Regions from separate parts of the Homo sapiens genome. Here all the other regions are reported to be linked to region 4. Evidence: microRNA targets listed by miRTarBase, many of them from high-throughput screens and not tested one by one. Region 4 holds a microRNA gene; each other region holds the end of a gene's coding sequence.

What was found. Region 4 holds the annotated microRNA hsa-miR-224-3p (AAAAUGGUGCCCUAGUGACUACA, at 1,633-1,655, opposite strand). A microRNA usually pairs through its seed, bases 2 to 8, with sites in the 3' UTR of a target mRNA and lowers its output. Matches are read on the target gene's strand: a 7mer-m8 pairs with bases 2 to 8, a 7mer-A1 pairs with bases 2 to 7 and ends in A, and an 8mer does both.
Region 1: miRTarBase lists DHX33 as a target of hsa-miR-224-3p. Seed matches in the 3' UTR shown: 7mer-m8 at 3,333-3,339.
Region 2: the mRNA of CAPRIN1 is a reported target of hsa-miR-224-3p. The part of its 3' UTR that is shown has no 7-base or 8-base seed match.
Region 3: the mRNA of NYAP2 is a reported target of hsa-miR-224-3p. Seed matches in the 3' UTR shown: 7mer-m8 at 3,921-3,927 and 7mer-m8 at 5,208-5,214.
Region 5: miRTarBase lists FZD1 as a target of hsa-miR-224-3p. Seed matches in the 3' UTR shown: 7mer-m8 at 2,885-2,891 and 7mer-A1 at 1,641-1,647.
Region 6: miRTarBase lists TPD52 as a target of hsa-miR-224-3p. Seed matches in the 3' UTR shown: 7mer-m8 at 3,525-3,531 and 7mer-A1 at 3,292-3,298.

The regions. Positions count from the first base shown.
Region 1 is chr17:5,439,946-5,445,492 of GRCh38, forward strand. DHX33 (DEAH-box helicase 33) reads right to left here. Exons shown (of 12, transcript NM_020162.4): 12 at 972-4,568. The coding sequence ends at 4,260. Among named protein-coding and RNA genes, the nearest start is that of C1QBP, 3.6 kb to the left of the region's middle.
Region 2 is chr11:34,097,677-34,103,223 of GRCh38, forward strand. CAPRIN1 (cell cycle associated protein 1) reads left to right here. Exons shown (of 19, transcript NM_005898.5): 18 at 22-85; 19 at 1,627-4,934. The coding sequence ends at 1,691. Among named protein-coding and RNA genes, the nearest start is that of NAT10, 5.2 kb to the right of the region's middle.
Region 3 is chr2:225,697,088-225,702,634 of GRCh38, forward strand. NYAP2 (neuronal tyrosine-phosphorylated phosphoinositide-3-kinase adaptor 2) reads left to right here. Exons shown (of 8, transcript NM_001371273.1): 8 at 1,230-5,547. The coding sequence ends at 1,457. All of the region lies in intron 5 of LOC105373914 (a long non-coding RNA gene), which reads right to left. Among named protein-coding and RNA genes, the nearest start is that of NYAP2, 300 kb to the left of the region's middle.
Region 4 is chrX:151,956,952-151,960,951 of GRCh38, forward strand. It overlaps MIR224 (microRNA 224), which reads right to left and starts at 1,707; the gene lies at 1,627-1,707. It overlaps GABRE (gamma-aminobutyric acid type A receptor subunit epsilon), which reads right to left. Exons shown (of 9, transcript NM_004961.4): 6 at 2,888-3,025. MIR452 (microRNA 452) reads right to left here and starts at 2,761; the gene lies at 2,677-2,761.
Region 5 is chr7:91,264,736-91,270,080 of GRCh38, reverse strand. It overlaps FZD1 (frizzled class receptor 1), which reads right to left. Exons shown (of 1, transcript NM_003505.2): 1 at 1-5,345. The coding sequence starts at 5,200. The coding sequence ends at 3,257. Among named protein-coding and RNA genes, the nearest start is that of FZD1, 3.0 kb to the right of the region's middle. RefSeq lists silencers at 4,904-4,963, 5,054-5,345.
Region 6 is chr8:80,033,900-80,039,446 of GRCh38, forward strand. It overlaps TPD52 (tumor protein D52), which reads right to left. Exons shown (of 8, transcript NM_001025253.3): 8 at 846-4,336. The coding sequence ends at 4,217. All of the region lies in intron 5 of TPD52-MRPS28 (TPD52-MRPS28 readthrough), which reads right to left. Among named protein-coding and RNA genes, the nearest start is that of MRPS28, 6.4 kb to the left of the region's middle. RefSeq lists an enhancer at 3,098-3,147.

The sequences.
Region 1 (5,547 bases), not on the chromosome of region 4:
AAAGAGGGGGGTCGTGGGAACCCCAACTTGAAGCGGGTTGGTCGGAAGTTTCAGAGGCCCAGACTTGCCATTGCTGTCTGAAGGTGGGGGCGGTCTTGGGGACTGAGCCCTCAACCTATGGGATCTGACACTATCTCCAGGTAGATACTGTTGGGATTGAATTGGAGGACACCCAGCTGGTGTCTGCTGCTTAGTGTGGAGGGGAAAAACCCAAACCTTTGGCCACATAAGTCTTCTGTGTTGATTGTTGTGTTGTGAGAGCAAAGGAAAGTCTGAGGGTTTTCCTGAAAGAGGCCTTCTAGAACCTTTTTTTCCACCGGCTCGGAACTCATGCTTGTGCGCACCCAGCCCATATGCTTCATTCTCTTTTCAACAGGAACCTCCTAGCGTTGCTGCTTTAACCAGGTTAAACCCAACCAGACTGTGACATCCTCAAGGGCAGGATCCATGATTAATTTTTGTGACCTTCCCTCTCTGCACCTCCAACCTTGCATCCAAGTTCTAATGGAACATCATTTTTCTGGGGACAAGAAGCCAGCTTATATCATTTAGATAAGTCCAGAGGCTTCCATAAAAACCCGAGGACAGGGTTTGGAGAGCCTCTGATAGCTAAATACATGGAGGTTCCTGGAGGGTGGTGGTCCAGGGACGGCATGGAGGCTGGGAGCTTCTTCCCCATTCCCCACCCTGCTCATCTCCTTATCTGTATCCTTGGTCATATCTTTTGTATGAAACCGGTAAATGTGTTTCCCTGAGTTCTGTGAGTTTCTCCAGTAAATTAATATAACCCAAAGACAGGGTTCAGATTTATTAAAAATCAACAATCCTACCTTCCCAGGATATACAGGACATATAAGCTACTAAGAAGGTATGTCTTACTAACTCATGGTAAGACTAACACTTAATATTTTCTAAATAATTTTCTATGAATAATGGAAAAGAGATGCAAGAAACAAGCCACACACATCATATACAAGATTCATTTTTAATGGATTTGATCGTCGGGTGCAAATTTGAGCATTATTTACAAGAGCTTTCTGTAGAGTTATTTCTGTTCAAATAAAACCAGACTCTCAAAATACAACATAAGCCTGAACCTACTTGATTTTTTTTTCTCCCTCTAGTTACCAAGGAATATCGTATCTCAGATGCATGGCCTACTATCACACTGGTCTTTAAAGAAAAAAAAAAATGCATGGCCACAGTTCCAGGCAGTTCCTGGTAGCTGGATTTAGTGGATTTATATATGACAGTACAGTACATCATCAGTTTCACCCACAGGGCAGAACTTGCCTCCATTCAGGCATCTCTTTACAACTGGCAGCAATGCAGCATTAAGGGTTTTTAGCCAGGACCTGCTGTTTGCAGTCCTGCCCCTTGTAGTGTTACTCTGGGTGTTGCACACTCCATGATTACTAGAAGACAAACACCTGAGGCATGCAATCTGCTTGGAGTGCATCTATTTACATGAAGCTGCTCACGGGAGCTGGTGATTCTTCCAGATATGGGTTTCGTAGGTTGGCAAAGAGTTATCACACCATCAGAGATTTTACCAATGGAAAGAGAGTAGCTGAAGATTATATTGCAATGTTATTGTGAAACATTTAACTTTCTTAAGTTTAAAGTGTACTATCTCCTGCAGCTCAATATAAACAACGATGTATTTCTTTGTAGCAGTATGTGGAGTCAGAATGGGTTTTCCAATCTGATTTAATCCCTGAGCAGCTATGTTAAAAGTTAACTTTTTAAAAAAGCCCAATAAAAAACTAAATACTGTATTAAAACTCTACCACAATGTTACAGGGATAAACTTATTTCTGTACAGAAACATTAAAGCTACTTAGAAGCTGTTTACATCCTTTGCCTCTCAGAAAAAAAATATACATTTCCGGAAACTGTTCAGGTACTTAAGCTGGACATAAATTACCCCAAGTTTTTTCTTTTTCTTTCTTTCTTTCTTTTTTTTTCTGAGACCGTCTCACACTGTCGGCCAGGCTGGAATGCAGTGGCGTGATCTTGGCTCACTACAAACTCTGCCTCCCAAGTTCAAGCAATTCTTGTGCCTCAGCCTCCCCGGTAGCTGGGATTACAGGCGTGTGCCACCATGCCCAGCTAAGTTTTCTATTTTTAGTAGAGACGGGGTTTTGCCATGTTGGCCAGGCTGGTCTTGAACTTCTCAAGCAATCCACCCACCTCAGCCTCCCATCCCAATGCTGGGATTACAGGCATGAGGTGATCCGCCCGCCTTGGCCTCCCAAAGTGCTGGGATTACAGGTGTGAGCCACTGCGCCCGGCCACCCCCCAATTTTTTTTTTTTTTTTTTTTTTTTTACCAGCACTATGAATGATTAAAAATACAATATTTTTCTTACTAAGTAGGACTAAACATTCTAATCCCCTACTGGAAAACAAAAAACAAAAAACAAAAACTGGAAAACTTTTCAGAAAGTCAGCAGTGGTAACAAGTCAGTAAGTGGAAGAACTGGTTCAAAGTTTAAGAATTCAGTAAGATAAGGTATATAGGAGCTGTCAGATCTTCTTTTGCCCACGTATAACCATTTCTGACAGACAGCCCTAAACACTAGCTGAGAGCTTGACTGCACAGGACCACGGCTAGTGTTGGAAATAAAGACTGAGCCGGACTTGACATACACAACTCCGGACAGATGGGACCCTGGAATGGGGCTGCTCCATCAGGCCACAGCTTCCAGAAAGAGAGCATCCATGATCTCTGAAGAGCCTCTTGGGCAGCTTGGCCCCTGGTTATAACTATGATTCATTCATTAAGAAATGACAAAACACCCCACAGATGTATTTGGACCAAGTAAGCACAATAAAAGAGCTAAATCACGGCTTCTTCTAGGGCAAAATATTATCTGGGGAAAGATTACTTGCTTCTGATAATTAAATAGCTAAGAGGAACCGTTAGTGCCTTTTCTCTGCTCAGAATATCAGAACAGGAACAGACTGTGGATATCCTCCAATTCCCTCTGACAATGAGGGTTAGAGAGAGGTGCCTAGCAGTTAGAAAGCAGCAAAGCCAGATTGTCCCAAGTCCCTACGAAGAAGGAAAAAATATCATAGAAAATTAATAAGATGCAAGAATAAGTGTTACAGCTCTAGCTCTTTTAGAATTTGTCCAGCAGGTCTTCTAGACTTCACTGAACTGCCCCCCACCCCCCCCGCCCACACACCAAAAAAGATACAAGAATGTAAGCCCAGATGTGGTGTGGTATCTGGCATAAGCCAATGTTCTCTGGGTTCTAGGTACCCCTCTCCCCTCCCCCACCCCCACCCCCTCTGACCAGGGGACTGCCCGAAAAGAAACAGCTGAAATGGTACACAGTCACTCCTCATGCCCGCATGTTCACTGGTGCCCAGTTAGAGAGAAAAATGGCAACTGTGTATGTGGGAGTCACCTACACACACAAAACACTGATAGGTCAGTTTCCCATGTCTACACGTGACAGGATTCAGAAGGTACAAATCAACCTTCACCCAGGAAGCTTACATGTCTCCTGAAAGCACTGACAGGGTCACGCACTGAGGACCAGGAGGCTCCTTTACTGGTCTCTGCTTGGAGACAGACACAGAGTGGTCCACCCTGAGACACAAGCGTTCAGTAGGGATCGCCATCCCAGGAGGTACGAGATAACAGCACCTCCCTCTGGAAACTTCTACAGAAGTCAGTTTTGTTTTCTATTTTAAAACTGCATTCAGAGAGACATTAAACAAGAACTAAGGGCAACATCCAAGCTCCGCAACCTCCTGTGGCCCTTCCAGAAAATCTCCCTCAGTCACAAGAACTTGGGATATTGCTGTACTTCACATCATATGGCAAGCAGTAACATTCAGCCTAACGGCTCCCAACTCACTGTACGTGTGTCGTGCGTGCTCCAGGCATAGTTCTGGGTACTTTCCATTCCTTTTCTCTAAACTTTATGAACCCAATTTTATAAGGATTATTATTATTACTCCCATTTGGCAGATGAGAAAACTGAGGCTCAGGTGTTAAATTAAGTCAAAGTCACCCAGTAAGAACCAAAAGCATAATTTTGAGGTTTCCAGGTACAAATGATATGTCCATGTCTATATGGTTCAGTCCCAGGAGTTGAGCAAAGATGCTTTCACGCTCCTGGAAGTCAGGCACCTTCAGCTGATTCCAAGGCTTCTCTAAGCGCCAACCTGGAAGCCTGCTGTAAGGACAACTGTAGTCCAAGCTCCCAGGGACCAGTGATTCTGGCGGCATCCTGGGGCGGCTCAGTTTCTGGCGGTTCTCAGCTTCCTCCTAAAGTACTCAGGGGCAGCCTCGTACAGCCACTGTGCATCTATGACGCAGAGGTCCCGCATGTAGCACTTGTTGGTGTAGAGCAGCTCAGTGTACACGACGCAGGCCGGCTTGCAGTGGAAGAGGACAGACGACGGGTGGATGGCCACTGGCTGGTGGGTGTCCGTGGTGGCATAGGTGCCATCTGGCTGAAGCTCGGCGGTGCTCATGAAGAGGCTGTGAGCCAGGCAGCGGCGGACACTCTCCACGTCTCCTCGGGATGATGCGATTGGCATTGACATCTGTTTCGGGAGAAAGCGAGGAATGGAGCCGACCCCACACGTAAACACTGGTCAGCACTACACAGCGTGTTGGGGCAACTGGACCCACTGGGGCAAAAGCAGCCCACATTGTGAGCCTAACGATGTGGATTCTGACATTCGGAGGTGGTCACCAAGGATCAGCAAGGTCAGGGGAAGAAGGCCCAGCTGGAGGAGCACGGACCAGAAACAGGGAAACTACCGCCTGTGAAGGTAGGGCTGGGAGGGAGGTGCTCACATTAGCCACCAGACCACAGGCAGGTTGGGTGACCCACCCCTCACCTAAATTCCATCAGGACGGCCCGGAAAGGAAAGGCCCTTCCCTCTCGCTTTGACCATCTCACCATCTCCTCACTCCGATTCACCCACCTGCTGCTGCCAAGCTAATCTACCTAAAGCACAACTCGAATCACTCTTCATCCACTCAAATACCTTCAACAATGTCTCTACTGCTCCTTGCAAAACAATGCAAACTTCCCGTGGTGAAGCCACGAAGGAGCCACCCTGAGCTGCTCGCCTGTCTTTCCTCTCACCGCTCTTTTTCTTTCTTTCTTTTTTTTTTTTTGAGGCTGAGTCTCCCTCTGTCACCCAGGCTGGAGTGCAATGGCGCAATCTCAGCTCATTGCAACCTCCACCTCCCAGGTTCAAGCTATTCTCCTGCCCTAGCCTCCCAAGTAGCTGGGATTACAGGCGCCTGCCACCACGCCTGGCTAATTTTTGTATTTTTAGTAGAAACGGGGTTTCACCATTTTGGTCAGGCTGGTCTTGAACTCCTGACCTCAAGTGATCTGCCCGCCTTGGCCTCCCAAAGTGCTGGGATTACAGGCGTGAGCCACCGCGCCCGGCCTCACCACTCTTCTTTAGACACTCCATGGTCCCCCATAGCTGGCTGCCTTCTCTTTCCTCGCCCCGTTTCATGATTCCTATCTGTGCCTTCACATTTGCTACTCTTAGTAGAAAT
Region 2 (5,547 bases), not on the chromosome of region 4:
ACTAACTAGCTTGTCTTTTAGGATGGATATCAGCAGAATTTCAAGCGAGGCTCTGGGCAGAGTGGACCACGGGGAGCCCCACGAGGTAATATTTTGTGGTGGTGATCCTAGCTCCTAAGTGGAGCTTCTGTTCTGGCCTTGGAAGAGCTGTTAATAGTCTGCATGTTAGGAATACATTTATCCTTTCCAGACTTGTTGCTAGGGATTAAATGAAATGCTCTGTTTCTAAAACTTAATCTTGGACCCAAATTTTAATTTTTGAATGATTTAATTTTCCCTGTTACTATATAAACTGTCTTGAAAACTAGAACATATTCTCTTCTCAGAAAAAGTGTTTTTCCAACTGAAAATTATTTTTCAGGTCCTAAAACCTGCTAAATGTTTTTAGGAAGTACTTACTGAAACATTTTTGTAAGACATTTTTGGAATGAGATTGAACATTTATATAAATTTATTATTCCTCTTTCATTTTTTTGAAACATGCCTATTATATTTTAGGGCCAGACACCCTTTAATGGCCGGATAAGCCATAGTTAACATTTAGAGAACCATTTAGAAGTGATAGAACTAATGGAATTTGCAATGCCTTTTGGACCTCTATTAGTGATATAAATATCAAGTTATTTCTGACTTTTAAACAAAACTCCCAAATTCCTAACTTATTGAGCTATACTTAAAAAAAATTACAGGTTTAGAGAGTTTTTTGTTTTTCTTTTACTGTTGGAAAACTACTTCCCATTTTGGCAGGAAGTTAACCTATTTAACAATTAGAGCTAGCATTTCATGTAGTCTGAAATTCTAAATGGTTCTCTGATTTGAGGGAGGTTAAACATCAAACAGGTTTCCTCTATTGGCCATAACATGTATAAAATGTGTGTTAAGGAGGAATTACAACGTACTTTGATTTGAATACTAGTAGAAACTGGCCAGGAAAAAGGTACATTTTTCTAAAAATTAATGGATCACTTGGGAATTACTGACTTGACTAGAAGTATCAAAGGATGTTTGCATGTGAATGTGGGTTATGTTCTTTCCCACCTTGTAGCATATTCGATGAAAGTTGAGTTAACTGATAGCTAAAAATCTGTTTTAACAGCATGTAAAAAGTTATTTTATCTGTTAAAAGTCATTATACAGTTTTGAATGTTATGTAGTTTCTTTTTAACAGTTTAGGTAATAAGGTCTGTTTTCATTCTGGTGCTTTTATTAATTTTGATAGTATGATGTTACTTACTACTGAAATGTAAGCTAGAGTGTACACTAGAATGTAAGCTCCATGAGAGCAGGTACCTTGTCTGTCTTCTCTGCTGTATCTATTCCCAACGCTTGATGATGGTGCCTGGCACATAGTAGGCACTCAATAAATATTTGTTGAATGAATGAATGAATGAGTACTGGTGGAATACTCCATTAGCTTTACTCTTCTTTTAGCTAAGAGAACATGAGCAAATTTGCGCATGACAACTTCCAGGACAGGGGAAACTTGAACACTGAAGAATTGACCTCTTAAGCCTAATAATGTGGTGACAGGCTGCCCACATGCTTCTTGACTTCAGATGAAAATCTGCTTGAAGGCAAAACAAATAATATTTGAAAGAAAAATCAAATGCCATTTTTGTCTTCTAGGTCGTGGAGGGCCCCCAAGACCCAACAGAGGGATGCCGCAAATGAACACTCAGCAAGTGAATTAATCTGATTCACAGGATTATGTTTAATCGCCAAAAACACACTGGCCAGTGTACCATAATATGTTACCAGAAGAGTTATTATCTATTTGTTCTCCCTTTCAGGAAACTTATTGTAAAGGGACTGTTTTCATCCCATAAAGACAGGACTACAATTGTCAGCTTTCTATTACCTGGATATGGAAGGAAACTATTTTTACTCTGCATGTTCTGTCCTAAGCGTCATCTTGAGCCTTGCACATGATACTCAGATTCCTCACCCTTGCTTAGGAGTAAAACAATATACTTTACAGGGTGATAATAATCTCCATAGTTATTTGAAGTGGCTTGAAAAAGGCAAGATTGACTTTTATGACATTGGATAAAATCTACAAATCAGCCCTCGAGTTATTCAATGATAACTGACAAACTAAATTATTTCCCTAGAAAGGAAGATGAAAGGAGTGGAGTGTGGTTTGGCAGAACAACTGCATTTCACAGCTTTTCCAGTTAAATTGGAGCACTGAACGTTCAGATGCATACCAAATTATGCATGGGTCCTAATCACACATATAAGGCTGGCTACCAGCTTTGACACAGCACTGTTCATCTGGCCAAACAACTGTGGTTAAAAACACATGTAAAATGCTTTTTAACAGCTGATACTGTATAAGACAAAGCCAAGATGCAAAATTAGGCTTTGATTGGCACTTTTTGAAAAATATGCAACAAATATGGGATGTAATCCGGATGGCCGCTTCTGTACTTAATGTGAAATATTTAGATACCTTTTTGAACACTTAACAGTTTCTTTGAGACAATGACTTTTGTAAGGATTGGTACTATCTATCATTCCTTATGACATGTACATTGTCTGTCACTAATCCTTGGATTTTGCTGTATTGTCACCTAAATTGGTACAGGTACTGATGAAAATCTCTAGTGGATAATCATAACACTCTCGGTCACATGTTTTTCCTTCAGCTTGAAAGCTTTTTTTTAAAAGGAAAAGATACCAAATGCCTGCTGCTACCACCCTTTTCAATTGCTATCTTTTGAAAGGCACCAGTATGTGTTTTAGATTGATTTCCCTGTTTCAGGGAAATCACGGACAGTAGTTTCAGTTCTGATGGTATAAGCAAAACAAATAAAACGTTTATAAAAGTTGTATCTTGAAACACTGGTGTTCAACAGCTAGCAGCTTATGTGATTCACCCCATGCCACGTTAGTGTCACAAATTTTATGGTTTATCTCCAGCAACATTTCTCTAGTACTTGCACTTATTATCTTTTGTCTAATTTAACCTTAACTGAATTCTCCGTTTCTCCTGGAGGCATTTATATTCAGTGATAATTCCTTCCCTTAGATGCATAGGGAGAGTCTCTAAATTTGATGGAAATGGACACTTGAGTAGTGACTTAGCCTTATGTACTCTGTTGGAATTTGTGCTAGCAGTTTGAGCACTAGTTCTGTGTGCCTAGGAAGTTAATGCTGCTTATTGTCTCATTCTGACTTCATGGAGAATTAATCCCACCTTTAAGCAAAGGCTACTAAGTTAATGGTATTTTCTGTGCAGAAATTAAATTTTATTTTCAGCATTTAGCCCAGGAATTCTTCCAGTAGGTGCTCAGCTATTTAAAAACAAAACTATTCTCAAACATTCATCATTAGACAACTGGAGTTTTTGCTGGTTTTGTAACCTACCAAAATGGATAGGCTGTTGAACATTCCACATTCAAAAGTTTTGTAGGGTGGTGGGAAATGGGGGATCTTCAATGTTTATTTTAAAATAAAATAAAATAAGTTCTTGACTTTTCTCATGTGTGGTTGTGGTACATCATATTGGAAGGGTTAACCTGTTACTTTGGCAAATGAGTATTTTTTTGCTAGCACCTCCCCTTGCGTGCTTTAAATGACATCTGCCTGGGATGTACCACAACCATATGTTACCTGTATCTTAGGGGAATGGATAAAATATTTGTGGTTTACTGGGTAATCCCTAGATGATGTATGCTTGCAGTCCTATATAAAACTAAATTTGCTATCTGTGTAGAAAATAATTTCATGACATTTACAATCAGGACTGAAGTAAGTTCTTCACACAGTGACCTCTGAATCAGTTTCAGAGAAGGGATGGGGGAGAAAATGCCTTCTAGGTTTTGAACTTCTATGCATTAGTGCAGATGTTGTGAATGTGTAAAGGTGTTCATAGTTTGACTGTTTCTATGTATGTTTTTTCAAAGAATTGTTCCTTTTTTTGAACTATAATTTTTCTTTTTTTGGTTATTTTACCATCACAGTTTAAATGTATATCTTTTATGTCTCTACTCAGACCATATTTTTAAAGGGGTGCCTCATTATGGGGCAGAGAACTTTTCAATAAGTCTCATTAAGATCTGAATCTTGGTTCTAAGCATTCTGTATAATATGTGATTGCTTGTCCTAGCTGCAGAAGGCCTTTTGTTTGGTCAAATGCATATTTTAGCAGAGTTTCAAGGAAATGATTGTCACACATGTCACTGTAGCCTCTTGGTGTAGCAAGCTCACATACAAAATACTTTTGTATATGCATAATATAAATCATCTCATGTGGATATGAAACTTCTTTTTTAAAACTTAAAAAGGTAGAATGTTATTGATTACCTTGATTAGGGCAGTTTTATTTCCAGATCCTAATAATTCCTAAAAAATATGGAAAAGTTTTTTTTCAATCATTGTACCTTGATATTAAAACAAATATCCTTTAAGTATTTCTAATCAGTTAGCTTCTACAGTTCTTTTGTCTCCTTTTATATGCAGCTCTTACGTGGGAGACTTTTCCACTTAAAGGAGACATAGAATGTGTGCTTATTCTCAGAAGGTTCATTAACTGAGGTGATGAGTTAACAACTAGTTGAGCAGTCAGCTTCCTAAGTGTTTTAGGACATTTGTTCATTATATTTTCCGTCATATAACTAGAGGAAGTGGAATGCAGATAAGTGCCGAATTCAAACCCTTCATTTTATGTTTAAGCTCCTGAATCTGCATTCCACTTGGGTTGTTTTTAAGCATTCTAAATTTTAGTTGATTATAAGTTAGATTTCACAGAATCAGTATTGCCCTTGATCTTGTCCTTTTTATGGAGTTAACGGGGAGGAAGACCCCTCAGGAAAACGAAAGTAAATTGTTAAGGCTCATCTTCATACCTTTTTCCATTTTGAATCCTACAAAAATACTGCAAAAGACTAGTGAATGTTTAAAATTACACTAGATTAAATAATATGAAAGTCTGGTTTTCTCACTGTCCTTGAACGCAGTCTGCTTAAGTTGTTAAAAACCATCCAGCAAAAGCTGTAGGTGAAGAAGTGCTACTGGTGTGAAGAGAGGAAAAGGTTTATAAAAGCAATCTGATAGCCTCATCTAATACACTTCTCAGCTTCTGCTACTAATATCCTACTTTTAACAAGCTGTTCTGAAGCTTAATCCAGTTACATAAGCAGTACGGCTGTTTTGAGTAGAGGCAGTGGAAGATCAGCAGTTTGTTCCTGATCATCTAGCAAAGGCATTTGTGTATTAATGCTTATTTGGAAATACCAATTTTAAGTACTGTGTTTAATAGGGAGACACACTGTATTAAGCAACTAAACTAAGGCTTTATTCAGCAAATTAGGGTATCCTTTGCCCAGCATCATGCCAAGCACTAGGCATTTAGTGGTGACAAAAATTACTGTGGTTTCTGCTTTCATTGAACTGTCTAATCAAAGACTGATGACACCAAAGTGTAGCAGATGCCATGATGGAGCAATGTGGTTGATGGCAGATATTAAAGCCATGACTGAGTGTATACCCTAGTTAAAATGATCAGGGGAGACTTAACTGAAAGGGGTAATTGAGCTAGATTTG
Region 3 (5,547 bases), not on the chromosome of region 4:
CTTCCACAACCTAGCTGAGCTCATGGGCCCAATTTTATTGCCGCCCTTGTGTGACAGACGCAACATGCTAGCTCTGTTCCAAAGAACAGTTACTGGTAGACATGGTGCCACATATACCTGGAAGCAGTGGTTACTTGTCCAGTAATATGTACATATGTGTATGTATGTATCAATATATAGTCCACACCGAGCTTTCTTCTGGTAACCAAACTGACCTCATGAATCCATTTTTCTAAATTTTTGAAGTTGATTAGAATCCTTGTCAGTCTGACTACAGGGACCAATGGTTCTAATGTAGACATTTGCCGAAGCATCAAAAACTATAGCAAAAACTTCTTAGCAGAAGAAATATTTAAGCATTTACATTCTAAGCATATGGTGTGCACTTAAAATCATTTTGATGAGATGAATTATTAAAAATATTCTACTACATTCTGTTTATAAATAAACCTGTTTAAAATTATTTCAAGAATAAAAAAACATTCATTCAAATCTTTAAAACATATCACATTAATATTAGACCTCACTGAAAAGTAATTCCAATAATTGAATTTAAAAATATGGGCACAAATAAGACAATGGAGCCAACATAAAGTTACAGGTAAATATTTGGAAAATTGCTTAAAAGTGTAAAAGATTTAATTTTCATATCATGAACTTTCAGAACATATTGAAAAATATTCATGCCCAAATTGTTAAATATCGCGATGTTTACTAATTTAAGTACAAAATTTGTTTATAGTTTCCATTCTTTTATTTTTGTTTTGTAAGAATTATTTCTTAATTTATCTTCAGAGTTTTTGGACTGGGCATAGTAGCTCACATCTGTAGTCCCAGCACTTTGGGAGGCTGAGGCGGGAGAATTGCTTGAACCCATGAGTTTGAGACCACACTGGGCAATATAGAGAGACCTCATCTCTACCAAAATTTTTTTTAAAAAATTAGCTGGGCATGGTGGTATATGCTTGTAGTCCCAACTACTGGGGAGACTGAGGTGGGAGGATCACTTGAGCCCAGGAGGTTGAGGCTGCTGTGAGCTGTGATTGCATCATCGTATTCTTAGCCTGGGTGAGGGTGAGACCTTGTCTAAAACAAGACAAAACTAAAAAGAATTTTAGAAGAGATATAGAAACAGCTGACATTGTTCTAAGAAACTACTAGCACAGTGCAAAAGAAATATGCTTTCATTCCATTTTTTTCTTCTGTATTCACTCTTTCTTTTTTGCTAGGTGGCATGCATGCAGTGGTTTCATGGAGACCATACAATGCTTGAGATGATTGAGAAAAAGCGTTGCTTGTGCAAGGAAATAAAGGCTAGACAGAAAACGGAAAAGGGCCTTTGCAAACAGGATAGCATGCCTATCTTGCCCAGCTGGAAGAAGAATGCAGGTGCCAAGAAGTACAGCCCTCCACCGTATTCTAAACAGCAAACGGTATTCTGGGATACTGCCATATGAGTGTGTGCAGGATGGTGTGAGCTCTACATTTCTTAATATGAAGAGGGAGGTCGACTCGGTCATATGATAATGAACTGTTACATATCTTTTCTGTGGGAGTGGAATGCCACGGGAAGCTGTGCCTATTCGTGGCAAGTTCAAGATAAAATGCATATGTCCTTGCAATGAAGGCACACTTATTTATCCCGGATTATTTTGAATCCAGAAGATATTAAAATGTAAATATTTTACTAGTTTATGGGTGACATCTGAAATAATACACATTATACGTATATAAATTACAGAAATATCAAGAGTTTACTATATGATATAATTTCAGTATTAACTGGTTTGTTATCTCTTTTATATGTAATCCCTTGATGCCTTTTATTATTAATTTTTGCATTTAAAATGTTTTTTTTCCCTTGCCCACATTTGGTTTCTGTACAAGAGCTCACAACTATAAATCATGTTCAATCACGTAATATATGATCTGGTGCTAGTAACGTAGAAGTTGAATATCATATTTGTTAAGAGCATCTGTGCTTTTTAAGTTTCAAGGGTTTGACAGGAAATGAATGCAAATGTGATGCTTAATTTGGACGTCCAAGTTACATTGACAACAATATTTTTGCTACATTGGCTTTATAAGAATTTCTCTTTAGCATCCTCTGGCAATGGTTAGGCTAACCATTAGTCTGACTTAGTAATAACTAAGCAATGGTTAGTCAGACTCCAGAGAAAGTTACTAGGATATATTGGACATCCCAGCAGAAAACATTTCCTTCAGAAATGACTTTAGGGACATGTGTCCTTGCATCATTGATCTGATTGGAGGAGACCAGGGTTCACTGTGACAATGGAAGGAACAAGGAATTAATAGCTCAAGAGCATGACTGCTTTCAAGAAAGTGGGACCAGTGGCATTGTAGCCACCATAATCACTATATTTAAGTAACTTTTCATGTGTATGCTTGTTTCCCCAAGAAAATGAGAAATAAACATTCAACTAGACCAGTTTACATATTTTAATACACTAAATGCCAATCTTTCTAAAAGTTTAGATCTATTAATAAAATATGTATTTCTTGTTAATTTTTTCAAACTGGTTATCACCACATTTCTGGGTCATAATCTTCTGTATGTGATCATCACACCCATTCTTACTGATTATGACACCATGACCAAAGAATTATGATCATGTTTCATTTCATTTTGTTTCAAGAAAGAGACAGGAAATGCAGGGGATGAGGGATGGGGTGGATTCAATTTTATGTAGTGGTGAAATTTAAGTTAAAAAAATCATATATATCTTTTAAGAAGAACTTGTTAGTTGAATATAAATATTGCCACGAATGAATAAAAAAGAAACTATCGCATATATTTTGTATATTTAAATTACTATTTATGCCTCCTAAAATTGATAGTATGTGGTTCTTTGTTAACAATCAATTTAGTATTATATTTCTGAGAGAAAAGATGTGTTTTTGAAGTTATTGTTATAGCAGTTTTTCTTGTAAGGGTATTGACAGCAATAGTTCAGTGCTGCTCAATAAAACCAAATATAACAGGAGTTAGAGAATCTTTGTAATCTATATTGCTACAAACCTAGTAATGCTTTATCAGTAATAGTTTCTTTCAAAAGCCTTTTCAATGTTATAACATGATTTTCTAATGTTTTATAATTAATGTGTATTTTGATGTCCAATTCAAATTCTGAAAAAATAAGGAAAAAGGTAAGTGGGAGCAGTGTATGGTTGGTGTGTCTGTGAGCGTGCGTGCATGTGTGTGTGTGTGAGTGTGTGTGTACATGAACGAATACTCAGTGGGAGAACTGTATACATAAAACGCTTACTGAAGTTGCAGGTTCTGCTTGTATAATTGAGGTGGTAGAAAACCGGGATCACAAATGCAGGAAATTAGGAAGGGATCTTAAGTAGCTTAAATAAAACCCGCCAGCATGTTTCACCAGCTATAGATTATGTTTCAAACCAAATAATCTATGAAGCACAAATCTAAGGGTGATGAAAATGTGTTTAGATAAAATCAGAATGGAAATAAAATGTGTTTATGACCCAAGTTGTTATCCTGATTTAAGTTATTATGACCACATATACTCAAGCCTATCAGTCAGACACAAGATACTAATTCTCAGCATGTCTATGATTACGTATATATTCAGGCTCAGTATGGTGATGATTAACCCTCCCTTAAAATTTATATTTAGGGAACATCTTTCTGTGGGGAGATGCAAGTGTGTTTTTCAGATGCGTATCTTTCCCATATCACTCTGATTTAGGCAGAAAGTTTATTTAATGTTGGCCATTTGTCAAGAAGGAAACAAAAGTACTAAAATGATCTGTGTTGGATTAAACCATTCCTGTTTGTTCTATCAAACTTATGCTAGGGCCAGGTTTCATGCACTCCTTTTTCAAATGCATTATTTTCTGAGGCGGTAACTTGTTTGAAAATTTGACCTTAGGCAACCATTTTCATTTATTTCCGCAAATCTCTACTTAAGTGGAAAGTGACTGAAAGATCTGGAAAAGTGGCTTCACTGAGATTTGACTCAAGAACTGTTATTCTGTGCCTATACGATTGTCCACTGTGGCAATAATCATTCCATGATCAATTTCCTTTTTGTGTAGTGTTTCTCTAAATGGAGAAAAGGAGATCATTAGTATGTAGAGAAAAATAAGCTGACTCTCTGAAAGTAATCAACTGGGATACTTCAATATATTAATTTGGTCAGAATATAGCCTACAGATAGCCAGAACACTATGCCATGATAAAGCTCATATTTCTAGCAGTGCCAAAGAACAAATCATATCATGGCCTGGTTATCAGGTTGAAAGAGCTCATACTTATGAAAAATGGTCCTTTCACAGCAAATTTCATAGAAACAGAATTTTATTGGATGTCACAAGATGCTTTTATATGTGAAACACTCCTTAGCAGAGAAGATATAAATTTCTTTAGAATTGATGAAAAGAAAATATAAAAATCTGCATTTATTTCAATCGCAGAAGCCAGCATCCTCTGAGGTATAAGAGTAGTCTATTACATAAACACCGCTCACATCTCTCCCATGTTTATGCTACTGAAGCAAGCTTGGCGCCAAATGTGATGGATTTATGTAAATGAAGGTTAATACTCACCCATGTAAAATAATTAGAAAAGTAAAACAAAACGTCCGGAGATTTAAATTTGTAGTTTTAAAGTATTATATATTCAAATACATGCCAATTGTCTGGAGACAACTAGATACAACTTTACTTTCCAAAGTAGTGACAAAATTTTCTTTGAATGCTTCTAGAGAATAAAAGAATGTTTTTATTACTACATTTTGTTGGTAGGTCTTGCCTATACATGGAATTTAGTTTGATTCTTTTGAGCAAATCTAGTGACTACGTCAATAAAACTAAAGCCATTGGGTTATTATTTTAACTAATAAAATAAGACATCAACACAATGCACGTACAAATGCAATTTTAATATCACTTCCATGTTAAGACAAGTAGAAAAGAGCTTGTAAAATAACTACACTCACATGTGAAATTAAGAAACAATTCCTACGATTTAAGCAGTAAGTTATCCGAGATGAGAGGGAATTCACACTTGCAAAGAAATAGAAGTAGAATAGATAGCAATTCACAATTCATTGTGTCCCAAACTTAAGTGGAAATAAAAGAAAAATGGTACCTATAGCATTTAACATTATGTCACTACATCTTCCATGTATACAAAATAGACAGCTAATTGTAGAATGTGGACCATTTTTTACTAATCTGTTATTTAACAGTTGATTATTGAGCAAACTTATGTATCAGGCATTTAAAAATTCTAAAGCACTTGGTGTTAAACATTGAAAAAGATGTTGTCCCATCCTTCAAGGAGCTTAATTATGCAATCATCAATATTTTCAAAATAAAGCCAATTGTTTTTAAGAAGATATACAATTGTGTTTACATATGGCATTCTCTTTTTTTTCAGATCAAGTGTATAGTCAAGGTAAAATTCTAAACATACTAAACTTAATGTCTAAGTATAGAATATGTTTATGTGTAAGCCTCGATGTGTGCATATATAATATGTACTGCTGTCTATGTAAA
Region 4 (4,000 bases):
CTCTGAGCCCAGGACATCATTTTCCACTTTCAGCATCACATTGCAGTTGCAATACTGTAAAATTCCTAGGCCTATAATTAGGTCGTCTTTTAAGTCCCTTCAAGGCAGGGCTCATGCAGGCCCTGTGGCTTAGCCCCTGCCCATCCAAGCTCAGAACAGCCTGGAACCCAGCAGACACTCAGCAACTCTTGCTCCTGTCAGGCAACAGCTTTGTAAAGCAGACCAGAACACTAACCTGTCCGTGTGTCCTCCTATTTTGGAAAGTGGATCAACTGCCCAGCAGGTCTGGGTGGGCTGGAGCTGAATGAGAAGAGCAGCCTTTCGTACTCACCTTGGCAGCACTGAAACTCAAGGAGCAAAGCTTCTCAGATTCTTCTGGAAGAAGGCAAGGGAGCGACCTGTTGTCAGTGGGAAACCTGTGTGTTGAGTATAGCTTTGGGATAGAACTCCTCCAGAGCTGCTGCACGGACCACCCTCGCACTTGCCTACTGGCCAGAATGTATTTATCAAAAGTCCTCTTGCCGTGGGATCTTGACTGCAATTTAAGACACTTCTAATTAGTTATACCCAGGCCCTGCAAAATTGCTGGGTTTATATAATATATTCTTGTTGCACGAAGATTTATTATTCTGTTGGATGATTCTATTTTAATTTTATTTATTCTGGCCAAAAAAGAACCTTCTCCGCTCGTCAAGAGATGCCAATTTGTCTTGAAGGACAAGAGAAAGATGCTAACACACACTTTCTTCTTCTTGAGGAGTGAGAGAAGCACGGGTAAGGAAAACAATATATCTGGGGCTGATGAACCAAAGCAAAAAAATATATGCTAAAGATGGTTTTCTGCTCAAACTCTTATCCTCTTTGACCAGATCATGGTTGGTCACTGCAGTGTCAGAGGGACACAATTAAATAGACCATGTCCAGAGGACTGGGACTAGAAGAATGAATGGACCCAAAGCTTTGAAGAATAAGGGAAGAAAAATAAACTAGGGCTATGTAGACTACAACAGACTATGATCCATGCCGGGAATGATGATGTTGATCGTTTAATCTCGGTCCTGTGAAACAGTGGCTGGACTAATGTAACCTGGACAGTTCCAAGGAAAAAGAACTAAGCTTAATGTGTGGAACTTCCAGAGACTCCAATTTCAGAAGAACAGGGAGAGTTTTTTGATGAACAGAACTGTCTAGAGAAGAAGGAAACCTCCTTGTAAGACAGTGAATTCCTGACCAGCAATAATATTCCATCAGAGGCTCCACAGCCATCAGTGAAGGGCAAGCCTCTCTCTGGAGGCAGGGCTGGACTCTCTTAGAAGCTCCTGAAGCAGAGATTCTCTGGATCAAGGTCCAAGATGGCCAGAGTAGCAGGCTACCACTGCATTCTGAACCCTTAATCGCCGAGCACGTAAGTATGCTCCAGATGGAGAGACCTGCCCCAGGGCCCAACTGGAAGAGTTTGAGACCAGTCCCAAAGATAACTCTGACATTGAAGGAACCACGTCTCCAGATCAACTAGTCTCCAGCAGAGGAGAAAGAAGACCTCTTTTCTCCTCAAGAATCCTCCTCACTCCCAAGGAGGTCTGGTGCTTACCTACTGTCATTGCTTTGATGATGATGCTGGCTCTGGGGCTTTGTAGTCACTAGGGCACCATTTTGAAACAATGCACAATCATCTACTAAACGGAACCACTAGTGACTTGAAAGCCCCTGGGCCTTATCTTCTCTGTCACTTTTGATGATGGGTCCCCACCTATCCGGGAAAAGCTGAGGTGCAGAAAACCAAGAGGCAGGCCCATGGTTAGCTGGCAGAAGAGCAAGGCTCCCAAGTCAAAGGTAGTAAAACCGCTTCCCCAGAGTCCCCAAGAAAAAGGGCAAGTATTTTTAAGGTAGCCCAGCCCTCTGCCCCTGCCTAATACTGTGCAAGCAAAGCTCTAGCCACATGAGCATGAGCTTTCCCTCATCCAGAGACTGACTCAATAAATGAAACAAAAGCAGATTTTCTGCCTAGTCACATGGTAGCAGAACAAGATGCCTCTCACGACAAATGGCTGGTTGGGTGACTGGCTCCATCCACATTCTGGAAACGATGAGGGCAGTGCCTTCACTGCCCTGAACTTGGTCAGGATGTGTGAAGAGTGTTTCCAGGGTTGCTCTGGGAGCTACCCTGGGGAGGTCCCTTGGCTCCTCATTCAGGTCACCTAGGAACATAAGTGAAGGTGCTCACATCTAATTGGGAGCTGAAGTGTAAGATACCCAGGACCTTCCCCTTTAGTCTTTGTCAGAGAAAAGGTCAGAAAACCAGTGGCCACTATGTCTATGTGGAATCCACCATGAAGCCTTTGATAAGAATCTGTGCTTTTCAGACTTGTTCCTTTAAGATAAATGTCAATGCAGCAGCCAGTGTAGCTGCTGTAACTTCCTCCAGACTTTCCCAGCCTTAAACTAGCTGACATTAGAACTCTAGCCTCCACCTCCCACTACAATGGACTTTGCTTCCCATTCAACCAGACTGGATTGGTTCTGGGTATGGAGAACTCACACGAGCTCCATTCCCCAAAGTCATCCAAAGAGGTCAGAGTTGTAACCTCGAAACTGAAGGGTCTGCATGAAAAAGCCAGCTGCACATTCCGACAGCAGCAGAACTTTATCTACTTACCTAACCTCTCAAGGAGCTTGGCAAAGCACTTACTTCTTTGCAGATGAGACTGAGACATAGTTACAAAGTCTCAGTTTCCTCTGCAAACAGTTGTAAGTGCTTAGCAATTATAAGACAGGAGCCATGTCTTACAATGTTTGCACGGGATGACTGCAAAGCATTTGTATGGATGGCCATCTCCAATCATCCCTACCACCTTCCTGGACTTCCGCCAAGCCCTGGCACGCTTACCAACTGGGGTTGTGATTATTTCAGTTTTGTTGCTCACTCCTGTAAAATCAAACTGGAAGAGCTTCCAGGAGTTCTTCTCATTGATTTCAAGCTTGAAATTTTCCCACTTGTAGATCATCTCATTCTCAGGATAGGAAACTGGAAAGGAATGTGAGAAAGAGGGTCTTATGAGACTTGGAAGCCCACCTGAGGTCTCCAATAGCATGAAGTCAGCCTGCACAATGCCTTGGAGTCCTGTCTCTGGCCTCACCAGCTGTGGGACCTTGCCTCTCTTACCTCATTGTTGAAGTCCATTCAATGAGTGCGTTTACTGAGCATTCCTCAGTATCAGGCCCTAGGCCAGAAATACAGAGATGAGCAAGGCATGAACCCTACCCTCAAGCAATCACATTTAATTTTATAAGACAGTGAGTATACTACTGTGATTTTTGGAGGAGCTCTGAAAAACCTATGTCCACAGAACAGCGGGGAAACAAAGTAGATAAAGGTCACTTGGGGACATACTCAGAAAAGACTTCATAAAGCAGGTGATATTCCCATTAAATCTTGAAACTCAAGTAAATATTCTCAATAAGAATGAGGTTGAAGGGGTTAAGGGGCAGTATAGAAAGGTGAAACACCTGGTGTATTGTGGAAAGGACAAAAGTTCAGGATGGCTAGCTCACAGAGGATGAGGTGCACAGGATTGGGTGGCAGGGTCCAGTTCATGAATGGCCTTGAGGTTCATTCTAAGGAATTTCAAATTGATCCATGAGAGTTAACGGCAGATTCGAGACTAAGAAGTGACCCAACCTAGGTGACCCTTCAGCTAGGTCACTCTGGTCCTTCTGTGAGGACAACATGTTGTCAAGGAGGCCAGTGTAGTAATCCAGGCAGAATTAAATTAATGCAGGTGGAAGTCAAAGCTGTACAGGGTGCAGAGAAATAGACAGCATCGATAGAGACTGGGAGGAAACACCAACAGGATGTGCTGATTGATTAGATGCAGGAGGTGAGGGAGAGGGAACATCAAAGTTCTTGATTTGCGCAACTGGGTGAGTGATGGTCCTCTTCAATGAGACAGATGGGAACCCAGAAGCAACACACTTGTTTTGGTGGTAGAGGTTTGGAGGA
Region 5 (5,345 bases), not on the chromosome of region 4:
CCTATTTTGCCACCAGTATTAAAAGAAATAAAAGAATACACTGGTTTTCTATATGCATCATCATTTAGAATAAATTGTTTTCTAAGAATAAAGGCTGGTGGTGACTTAAAAATGTCTTCTAAAGCTATTTAACCACAGCATGTAAAACCTTTCTGCATCAAATTTATAGTTACATCATGTTAAGGACACCTCCAATAAGACTGCTTTAAAATATAGTTTTGGATAGCAATTAATGTCAAAAACATGTTTTTCCAGAAATTATCTAATTGAACTACTTAGTGAGGAGATATGTGTGAATTTGGCCTAAGAATACTATTTTTTTGTGTATGTCTATACAATAAACCCTCTATCTACTATATTATGTTAATGTAACAAAGAAAAAGGGAACACAAAATTGCATCTTGCTACTTAAAATCAAATGCTACATTTTTAGTAAGATCTAATTTTTTTGATTTTCCTTAAAATGAATAATGACTTATAAGACAATTGCATTGTAACAAGGAAAGTAACTCTATTGTATCAATGATCTTCATTTTAGTCCCTTGTCATTTTATCACAAAATGTTTTCATGGGAAAATTTAGTAAAGATATTTTTAACCTGTAAAGGTATTTGAGGTTTTCCATCTAGCATTTTCCATTTCTCATAACCATATTTCCATATTATGAAATGTAAGTAAACTTTACATCTCTATTTTATAAAAATTAATGCATATATACTTATGTGTATACTTATCTATATATACACATATATACACCCATGCATAAATTCTGACTAAGAGTAGACCAACTAGATAATTTATCTGGAGAAGGTTCCTTGAACGATTAAAAAAAGGGGTCTTCAGAAGCAAACAACAAAACAGCCTTACAAACCCAATTGCTGTTTAAAATGTTTATGAACACATAGCCAGTTAACCATTTATTGATTGCCTATTTAGGGTTTTGTAATATCCAAGATTATGGAAGAGATAAGACAATACCTCTAAAAAATATGAGAAAGGTGATGATTTAAAAATAAACCTCCATAATATAAAAAGTCATGTAAATTTATTCCCTGAAAGAAAAGAAAGCTTTAATATTAAAATTAGAGTTCTCTTTTAATCCTCTTTGAGTAAAGAAATAATTTGCAAACTTCTATTTTCTACTGTCATGAAAACAGATCTTTTCTTGGGACTTCACAAATGTCAATCACAACAATGCAAACAGAGTAATTCTTTGGAAAGACTGATCTGAGGGTTTAAGGGTAGACTTTTTTCATTGAATTCCTGAATTTTTACACTGTGGGATTGGCTATGAGACACCATAAAATGTAAAATAGTTCAGACAGCTCAAGCTCTATTATTTTCAGGCACAAAATCCATATAATTTTGTACAAAACTTTGAATTTTTTATTTGTGAAATTAAAAATATGGTATTATATATATATAAACTTCTATTCCTCTATAAATATAGATGATTTTGTGATAGTGAACAGAATAAATGTATACCAAATTCAAAGACCAATATCATTTTAGCGTATGACAGACATAGATAAATTTAGGTCCTAAGTACCGGCATTTTGATAAATTCTTAAAGTTTAAAACAATACAATCAGGAGGATTGCTTTTCTCCTCTTCTTCACAGAGAACTAAAGTGAATATTTTTAAATGGCTTTGAAAGATTTACATTTGACACATTTCTGTAAATCCAAAAGAGGAGCACACAGGATTTAATGCAGTAGACCTGCACACATTTTCCCTTTAGCATGCATGCCCATATTTTGTTTATTTCAGGCGCTATCTCCCCGTCAATTATTCCACCTTCTTTACCTCCTGAAATCTTACCAGGTTATTATTGGTGGTGTGAATTGTTCCCCCCTCAGAATGTGCTGCTGAATAATAATCGTAATAAAATGTTGAAAGTGTACAACTTTTACATTTTAAAGTTTCTGATATATGTCTAGTTATTTGATTAAAAATAAGAAAATAGCACTTCATTTTGAGGAAGTCCATGACACTGAAATATCCTTCAAGTTTTCAATTTCTGTTTACGTTTTGCTGTCTTGTTAAGGAAAGCAAACATCAACTCCTTAACAAAGCTTTCCAGGTGACCTCAACATTTCCATTTTACAGACCGGTAAAATCTAAGCGCAGGCTGTCTCATTCTCAAAGGCAAGGTTGCCAGGCATCCGTATGCAATTAGAATTAACATTTTATAACCCATATCTTCAGTCTCTTCCAACCCACACAAAGCTTCATGCTTCTTCCCAAATCTCAGTAACCACATCTTTCCATGACGCTGGCCAAACCCATACCAGGTTTTAGACACTAGAGAATGAAATGAGCTCACCCCTCAAAAATTAGACTTCAAAAAGTTTGGCATTGGTTATCTCACTCACCCTGTAACCAACTAAGGTGGGAGAAGGGAGTGTCTGGGCGTTGAAGGTGACCGTGGAGGGAGGCTGAGACTGCCAGCGCCCACACCCGTGGGCCCCCATGAAGTTGGAGGAAAGTTCTGGACAGTTAAAAATCCAGCTTCAGGAAGTCGAAGGGACGGGCCTTCGCAATCCACCGCCGAGCAAGGGAGGAATTGTAATGTATGGGGGCCCTCCTCCAGATTTGGAAGGTTTGTGGAGTTCTGTACCTTAAGAGCCCCTACCTCAAGCCAGGAAAGAAAGGGAGGGGACAGAAGGAGGGGGAGGGGGCAAAAGGAGGAGGCGGGAAGTGACCCTGGCAGCGCAGCCCTAGTCGCACCCCGCAGTGCTGAACTCGCCCCGGAGCTGGCGCCCAGCCGTCCCGAGCACCCGTGGTAGGGAGAGGCGCGCGAGGACGACCAGGAGCGCTGTGCGGTTGCACACCAGTTTTAGCTCCTTTGCAATACTCCGAAAAGGGCAAGAAGGAAAAGCCTCAAATGGTTAAACCGCCCTAAATAATTAAAAACTTTTGAAAAAGAAAAACGCGTGATCGGTCGTCATTTAAATACAAATATACTTACAAAAATCTTACACAGGCTATTTACAATCATAAAAGCGAACAGTCCTGGTACCAGAGTGTGAGGGCAAGAGGTCTGTCCATCCTCCCTCTGGCAGTCGGGCCCTCGTGTCCTTTTGCCTCAGGGACGGAAGCTTTTGCAGGAGCTGAGTTGTTCAAAGGAGCCTGCGAAAGAGAGTTGTCTAGTGAGGAAACCTCGAGATGTCAGGATTGGCACGAACTCCACGGCGCTGGCTTTGGGGGATCGCTGCGCCCCGGCCGAGGCCTGGGCATGGGCTGAGCCCCGGGTCTCAGACTGTAGTCTCCCCTTGTTTGCTGTTGGTGAGCCTCGTGTAGAACTTCCTCCAGGAGTTGAGGGTCTTGCCGGACCAGATCCAGAAGCCCGACGTGATGCCCACGATCAGCGTCATAAGGTACTTAATCATGAAGACCGTGAAGTCCGGGCTCATGGGCGGGTGCGGCGGGGCGCCTCCGCCCGCCTGGAGGTGAGGGCAGGGGATAGCGTAGCTCTTGCAGCTCTGGGCCACCCAGCTGCGTTCCCACTGGTCCCGGAAGGCCTGCTCGTAGAAGTAGCAGGCGATGACGATGGTGGCTGGCACAGTGTACAGCACGCTGAAGACGCCAATGCGCACCATGAGCTTCTCCAGCTTCTCGGTCTTGGTGCCATCGTGCTTCATGATGGTGCGGATGCGGAAGAGCGACACAAAGCCGGCCAGCAGAAAGGACGTGCCGATAAACAGGTACACGAAGAGGGGCGCCAGCACGAAGCCACGCAGCGCGTCCACGTTGTTAAGCCCCACGAAGCACACTCCGCTCAGCACATCGCCGTCCACCTGGCCCAGCGCCAGGATGGTGATGGTCTTGATGGCCGGCACAGCCCAGGCGGCCAGGTGAAAATACTGTGAGTTGGCTTCGATGGCCTCGTGGCCCCACTTCATGCCAGCCGCCAGGAACCAGGTGAGCGACAGGATCACCCACCAGATGGAGCTGGCCATGCTGAAGAAGTAGAGCATCATGAAGAGGATGGTGCAGCCCTCCTTCTTGGTGCCCTGCGCCACAGTGCGTGCCCCGTCCTCGGCGAACTTGTCATTACACACCACTCGGTCTTCCAGGAGGAAGCCGGCGATGTAGGCCACGGCCACGGCCGTGTAACAGCCGGACAAGAAGATGATGGGCCGCTCCGGGTAGCTGAAGCGCCGCATGTCCACCAGGTACGTAAGCACCGTGAAGAGCGTGGAGGCGCAGCACAGCACTGACCAAATGCCAATCCAGGTGCGCGAGAAGCGCAGCTCCTCGGGCCCGAAGTACATGAGCCCATACACCTTGGTCGGCTCACAAGGTGCGCCGCAGTCCTTCTCCCCCAGGAAGTGGTAGTTGAGGTAGGAGGGCACCTTGAGGGCGCGCGGGCAGGAGAACTTGCCTCGCTCCGACGCGCCGGCGCCCCCCGGGAAGCCGCCACGGTGCCCTCCGCCGCCGTGCTGAGGGTTGCTGGTCCAGAACTCTGGAAGCAGCGAGGGCGTCGGGGTGCCCTTGTCGGACGTGTTCTGGCCCACGCACAGCTCGCCGGCGCCGTGCACCGGGAACTTCTCACACTTGAGCGTGTCTGGCCACTGGAAGCCGAACTTGTTCATGAGCGCCTCGCAGCCCTGGCGCGCGCGCTCGCACAGGGAGCGGCAGGGCGGCAGCGCCTGCTCTAGCACGGTGCACACGGGCGCGTACATGGAGCACAGGAAGAACTTGAGCTCAGCGGAACACTGCACTTTCACTAGAGGGTAGAACTGGTGCACCTCCAGGCCCGCGTCCTCCTGGTTCGTGTGGCCCAGCAGGTTGGGCATGATGGTCTGGTTGTACGCGATGTCCGTGCACAGCGGGATGGAGATGGGCTGGCAATAGCCGTGGTCCGGGACGGAGATGCCCCGCTCGCCGTTGTACTGCTGCCCGCTCTGTTGCTGCTGAGGCGGCGGCGGCGGTTGCTGCCCCGGCCCGGGCCCCTGGCCTGGCCCCTGGCCCGCCGCCTGGGCCCGGACCCCCAGCAGCAGCGGAGCCTCCAGCAGCCAAAGCAGCAGCAGCAGCTGGCGCGCCAATCGCCGGGGGTCAACTGGCGGGCGGCGGCGGCCACCGGCGTCCCCGCTGCCCTCCTCCGCCAGCCGGGCCGAGAGCGCCCCGGCACAAAGTTCCCAGCTCGCGCCACCGCCGGCGGCCCGGGACTTCTTAGGCGCCTCCTCCTCAGCCATACTTTCTCGGCTCCTCTCTTGGCGCCGCTCCGCTGGGGCTGCCAGGGGCACGGCCGGCGGCGGCTCCCCCTGCGGCCAGGGAGACCTCTGCGCGGGTGCCCTCCGTCGAGCCCAAGCCGCTTTCGGCCCGCTCCCCCGGCTCCTG
Region 6 (5,547 bases), not on the chromosome of region 4:
TTGTGGGCTCTACCTAAAACTGGCAGCCTGGCCCCCAGGCTTCAGGCTGTCCCTGGCTTGAGGGTGGGGTTTCAACAGGGACCCACCCCTTCCCTCCTAGGAACCTGCCTCCTGCCACCATCAACATGCCATCCAGAGCACCCAGGCTGTCCACACCAAGCTACCCTCAGCCCCTGGCCACCCTCCCATGCTCACTGGTGCCCATAGTTGGGAGGGGGCCGAGGTAGCAGGAACCTGACATGTCAGCACCACCCTGAGGATGCACACACCTGGCCAGGTTGTGACAGCACCCAAGCTCAGCCACAACTTTGCTCCGAACTGGAGCAGGCACTTCCAGGCCTGCATGGGCAGGGGACTTTCCAGGCCCCCGAGAGCACACAGATGCCTGGATCTGGAGCTGCAGCTGGGTGGCTGCAGCTGCACCCAGGAGCACAAGCTCCTGCCCTGCCAACATGGTAAGGCAGGGTTCCTGCTGGGATCACCTATTGCCGGCCCCTGCCACTTCTGCAGAGCCTGCAACCCCCCAGCCATGCTTCCCTTGCTGCAGCTGGTGTCCTTGCAGCAGCTGCTCAAGGAGGGCCACCACCATCAACAAGTCTGGAGATACCGGTTGGGAAGCTATTAGTATCACTCTAAAAATAGTCATTTCACCCATAGAAATGGATAAGATCATTAAGGGGATCATGTAGAAGATAACAACAGATAGACAATAGCATTTAGGAGCTGGAAGAATTCTAATACTAAAAAATAGTCAAAATGGAAAATAAGAACAGAGAATCAATTCTAGAAACCAAGGAGAAACTTTAAAGCATGCTGGAGAGTGGTAAAGTGAAAGATCACGTCCATTTACAAATATTCAAACAAAACTGTATTTGGCTTTTTCTATATGATAGAAGAACCACAAAATTAATAAAATAAACTACCAACCAACCTCAGTAACATCAAAATTACATGAGAGCTGGCAAGAATTTTAGTTGCCAAATAGCATTTATTTGAGTACAAAATCCTGGCAGGCAAAAGCACTTGCAGACCCGACTCTCTGAGAACTTACAAACAAAAAGTGAAAAGCTCTTAGTTCATTTTGAGTCAGAACAATAAGGAAATTATGAAATCTAAGATGTGCAGGTTTACTTAAAAGTGATAATGGTTTATATTAACTGTGGCCCACACAGGGTCTCTCTAATCTAATGAAAACAGGACAGTCACTGAAAATAAGGACTAATCAATGGCCAAATGTTTCTTCACTATGGGCAAAAATGTGATTTCTTCATCTGGGCTTTAAGAGCTATAAATAAAACACATGGCCGGGTGCATGCCTATAGTCCTAGCTATTTGGGAAGCTAAGGCAGTAGGATTCCTTGACCCCAGGAGTTGGAGGTCAGCCAACTCTAAACAAACACAAACATCATTCTGACAAATGACCTTAATGTAGGATCTCTTTGGACACATCTTCAGCAAGCAGTCATTTAATAAATGCCTTCTGATAGGCAGAATGTAGCTGCTCATGGCTCTTTAAGTATCATATCCAGAATATGAAGGGTTTGGAGAGAAGTTGCATAATGGACTTGCCCCTTTCCTCAATGGGCAGGTAATGTATACAAAAGAACCCATACCCAAATTATAGCATTTTTATTTTCCAATACTATACAAAAAATAGACTGTGCATATCTTAACAGATCCAGATCCAAATTAAATACTTTTTTTCTATTTCAAACTATTCTAAGTTGCTAAGGTGATAATCCAGTTTTGAGCTCTACTCTCTTCCACTGACTACTTGGCTCTCATAAGCATAAGAATTCTTGCCCTATTTCCCACAAACTCCATAAATTGACATTTCTTTTTGTAAGAAGGGGATATTTTCTTCTACACTTGAGTCCTTACATCTGTGAGATTTCATAAGTATCTGAGATTTCACACTCTTGCTATTTTCTTAGTGTCAAACACAAGAGGAACCAGGAACTGTTTCTGGCATTTCTACTAATTACTATGTTTCTCATTCTTTAAATATCTGTGAATTCATAATATTGAATCTGCCACAAAAACCATTTTGAATATTTCTAAATTCATGTTTTTTTCTAAATCCATCCTCACTCTTTTTAATACTTCTTTCAAGGGGCAGAGTACTTTACAGTAGATTACTTTGTTTCTTAGATTAAGTATAGGTAGATGTCTAGAAAAGTGATTCTCCATTATTTTCTTTCACAGCCACCCCCAATACCCACCTTCATCCACTCACCCCACTTGCCACCCCCATTTCTATCACTTTTCCCTTTTTGGGCAGAAAAGAGACTTGAGGGTATTTCACTCATCTAAAGAAATTGCCACTTTACTCCATTTTGCCTTGTTGAAAAGTTAGTAGCAGGGCAGGATGCTCAAGAAACAATGTGATCAAAAGAATATGTTTGAATTTTAAGAAGTAGACTAGTTCATAGAAAAAATAATTTAACACTTGAGTAAGCACAATATTTCTATAGAAAGACAGACTTCTACAGATCCACTCCTCTGAGAAAATGCTTCAACAGCCTGTGCCTTAAAGCCCTTATTTAGAATATGTTAATATGATACCATTAAGCAATAATTTAAGGATGGTTAAAAAAAAATTTTTTTTTTTTAAGCATAGACTCCAGTTGATTCGGTACAACAAGCTGTTTCCAGACCACTGGTCTCATAATAAATATTGAGACCTATACTACTGATAGATGGAATTTATTAAGCTTTTCACATGTGATAGCACATAGTTTTAATTGCATCCAAAGTACTAACAAAAACTCTAGCAATCAAGAATGGCAGCATGTTATTTTATAACAATCAACACCTGTGGCTTTTAAAATTTGGTTTTCATAAGATAATTTATACTGAAGTAAATCTAGCCATGCTTTTAAAAAATGCTTTAGGTCACTCCAAGCTTGGCAGTTAACATTTGGCATAAACAATAATAAAACAATCACAATTTAATAAATAACAAATACAACATTGTAGGCCATAATCATATACAGTATAAGGAAAAGGTGGTAGTGTTGAGTAAGCAGTTATTAGAATAGAATACCTTGGCCTCTATGCAAATATGTCTAGACACTTTGATTCACTCAGCCCTGACATTCAGTTTTCAAAGTAGGAGACAGGTTCTACAGTATCATTTTACAGTTTCCAACACATTGAAAACAAGTAGAAAATGATGAGTTGATTTTTATTAATGCATTACATCCTCAAGAGTTATCACCAACCCCTCAGTATAAAAAATTTTCAAGTTATATTAGTCATATAACTTGGTGTGCTTATTTTAAATAGTGCTAAATGGATTAAGTGAAGACAACAATGGTTCCCCTAATGTGATTGATATTGTCATTTTTACCAGCTTCTAGATCTAAACTTTCAGGCTTTTGAACTGAACATTGATGACAGTGTTCATAGTTCAACCTACTGAACATACAGTGTGCTTGATTCAGAATGTTATTTTGTAGAAATTAAAATTTTAACCTGGTGAAAAATAAGTTGATATAAGTGGTATAATAAACAATACACTGAAATGGTTACTGTCACAAACGGTGCTAAATAATGATATAGGAGGTTCCACTCTCAAGTCACCTAGAAGTTTGATTACATATTGTTACTTACAAAACTATAATAAATTGGATGCACAGCTGTTTACTTCAGTCTGGTGTCTTCAACCAAAATATGTACCTTATACCAAAACAATGCTTATTCCAAAATATTTTTTGTAGCTAGTAGTTCTTTCCTTGGAGGTAAAGAAAATACACCCAAACTTTTAATTACCAGGATTCAGAATATTTAAGAGAACAATTTTAGTTAAGAATCAAATATACAGAGATTCAAAGAGGGGAAAAAAAGGAAATATTATAGAAGACAAAGGTCAAACTGGCATTCCAGATCTGGAGCAATTTTGTAAAGCAGGAAAACAACTATGACAATCTGTAGCTTCTTAGATCATTATAGTGAATGTCCCCATTTACTATAAGTGTTTTTATAATGGTGTTTCCTAAATAAAGGAACATAAATGTACACTAAAGGGTGTTTCCCAAGAATAGAGGTGAAGATATTTTCATTTTGTTTAACCCACAAACTATTTGGTCAAAGGAATATGTAAAGCTAAATAAAAGCACATCTGGTAGAAATTCATGGCAATGCATGTTGACAAGATGTGCTTGGACCTCGCTTGCAGCATCTGGCAGTGGGTAGCAGAACAAAGGTAGGAATCTCACAGGCTCTCCTGTGTCTTTTCTGGAAGAGGCTCCGTGGTGGTGGCACTAGCATTTGCAGCCGAATTCAAGACTTCTCCAAAATCACCACCAGCAGGCTTGGTTCCCCCTACTTTAGACTTAAAAAAAAGTTCAAAAAAGGGAAAGACATTATGAAACATAAAACTAGCTGATTCTGCATAAAGTAACTCTAATTCACTTTCAAGAACAAATACATCAGCAACCTTATAGCTCAGTGATTATTATATATGTATGGAATTTAGTATTGTTGCAATGTTCAGTGTGGTTTTATAGTAAAACTCATGCATTCTCCCTTGCTGAAATATTCAGATTGGTAAATTCTACCCCTTCCCCTTTCCCCCTGCTCCTTGTTCTTCACAGGAAGTCTGTCTAGAAAACTTTGTAAGGTCTATTATTTTAAAGTACCTAGTGAACTGTCTGTCTCTACACTTGCATAACATTTTGTATTGCATCGAATTGCTCATTTAGCTACACTCATTCAAGAAATATTGAATACAACATGGGAAAGAAATATATGTTTTTTTCTCAGTTACAGTATAAGCTTTCTAACCCTTTAATACTTAAAGTGTGGTTCAAGGACCTACAGACTCAACATTACCTGGGAGCTTATTAGAAATGCAGGATCTCAGATATCCTTTCTACCCCACCCAACTCCAGCTACAGAATTGAAATCAACACTTGAACAAAATCCCTGAGTTGTTCATGTGCACATTATAGTTTGTGAAGCACTACTCCAACCTATCTGGCCTGAAATTTTGCCAATAAGCATTTATTTCAATATATCTGCCTTGCATTTGTATAATACTTTTTCAAAACCCTTACACATGTCACTTTATCCTTTTCAATGCTAATCTGTATATGCTCTCTCACTGTTACACTGTCCAACAGGACAGCTAACAGTAAGAAAACAGTCAGTGACCATGGATGCAAGAAGCTTATAGTGGGTTTGAACTTGACCTTGCTCTTAGCTCAATCTTAATTGAGTGGTCACAGACCCCTTATTTTCACTCTCATTCTTTTTGATCTACCATCCAAATTGTTTGGGAAATGCGAATAATGTGTGTTCATTGTTTATTAAATTTATTAAAACACATTCCTTAATTATAGTATCAAATCTCCTTGCAGTTCAACATGTCTAAAACTGAACTCCTTCCCCCGACAACTAGCCCCTTCTCTATTCTTTTTTAACACTTTATATGGCAATAGCACCTACCTAGCTGCCCCAGCCTGACACCTGGGGTTGTCCTGGATTCTTATCCAACTTGTTCTACATCCAATCAATCTTTTTTTTTTTCCGTGTCACTTCTCA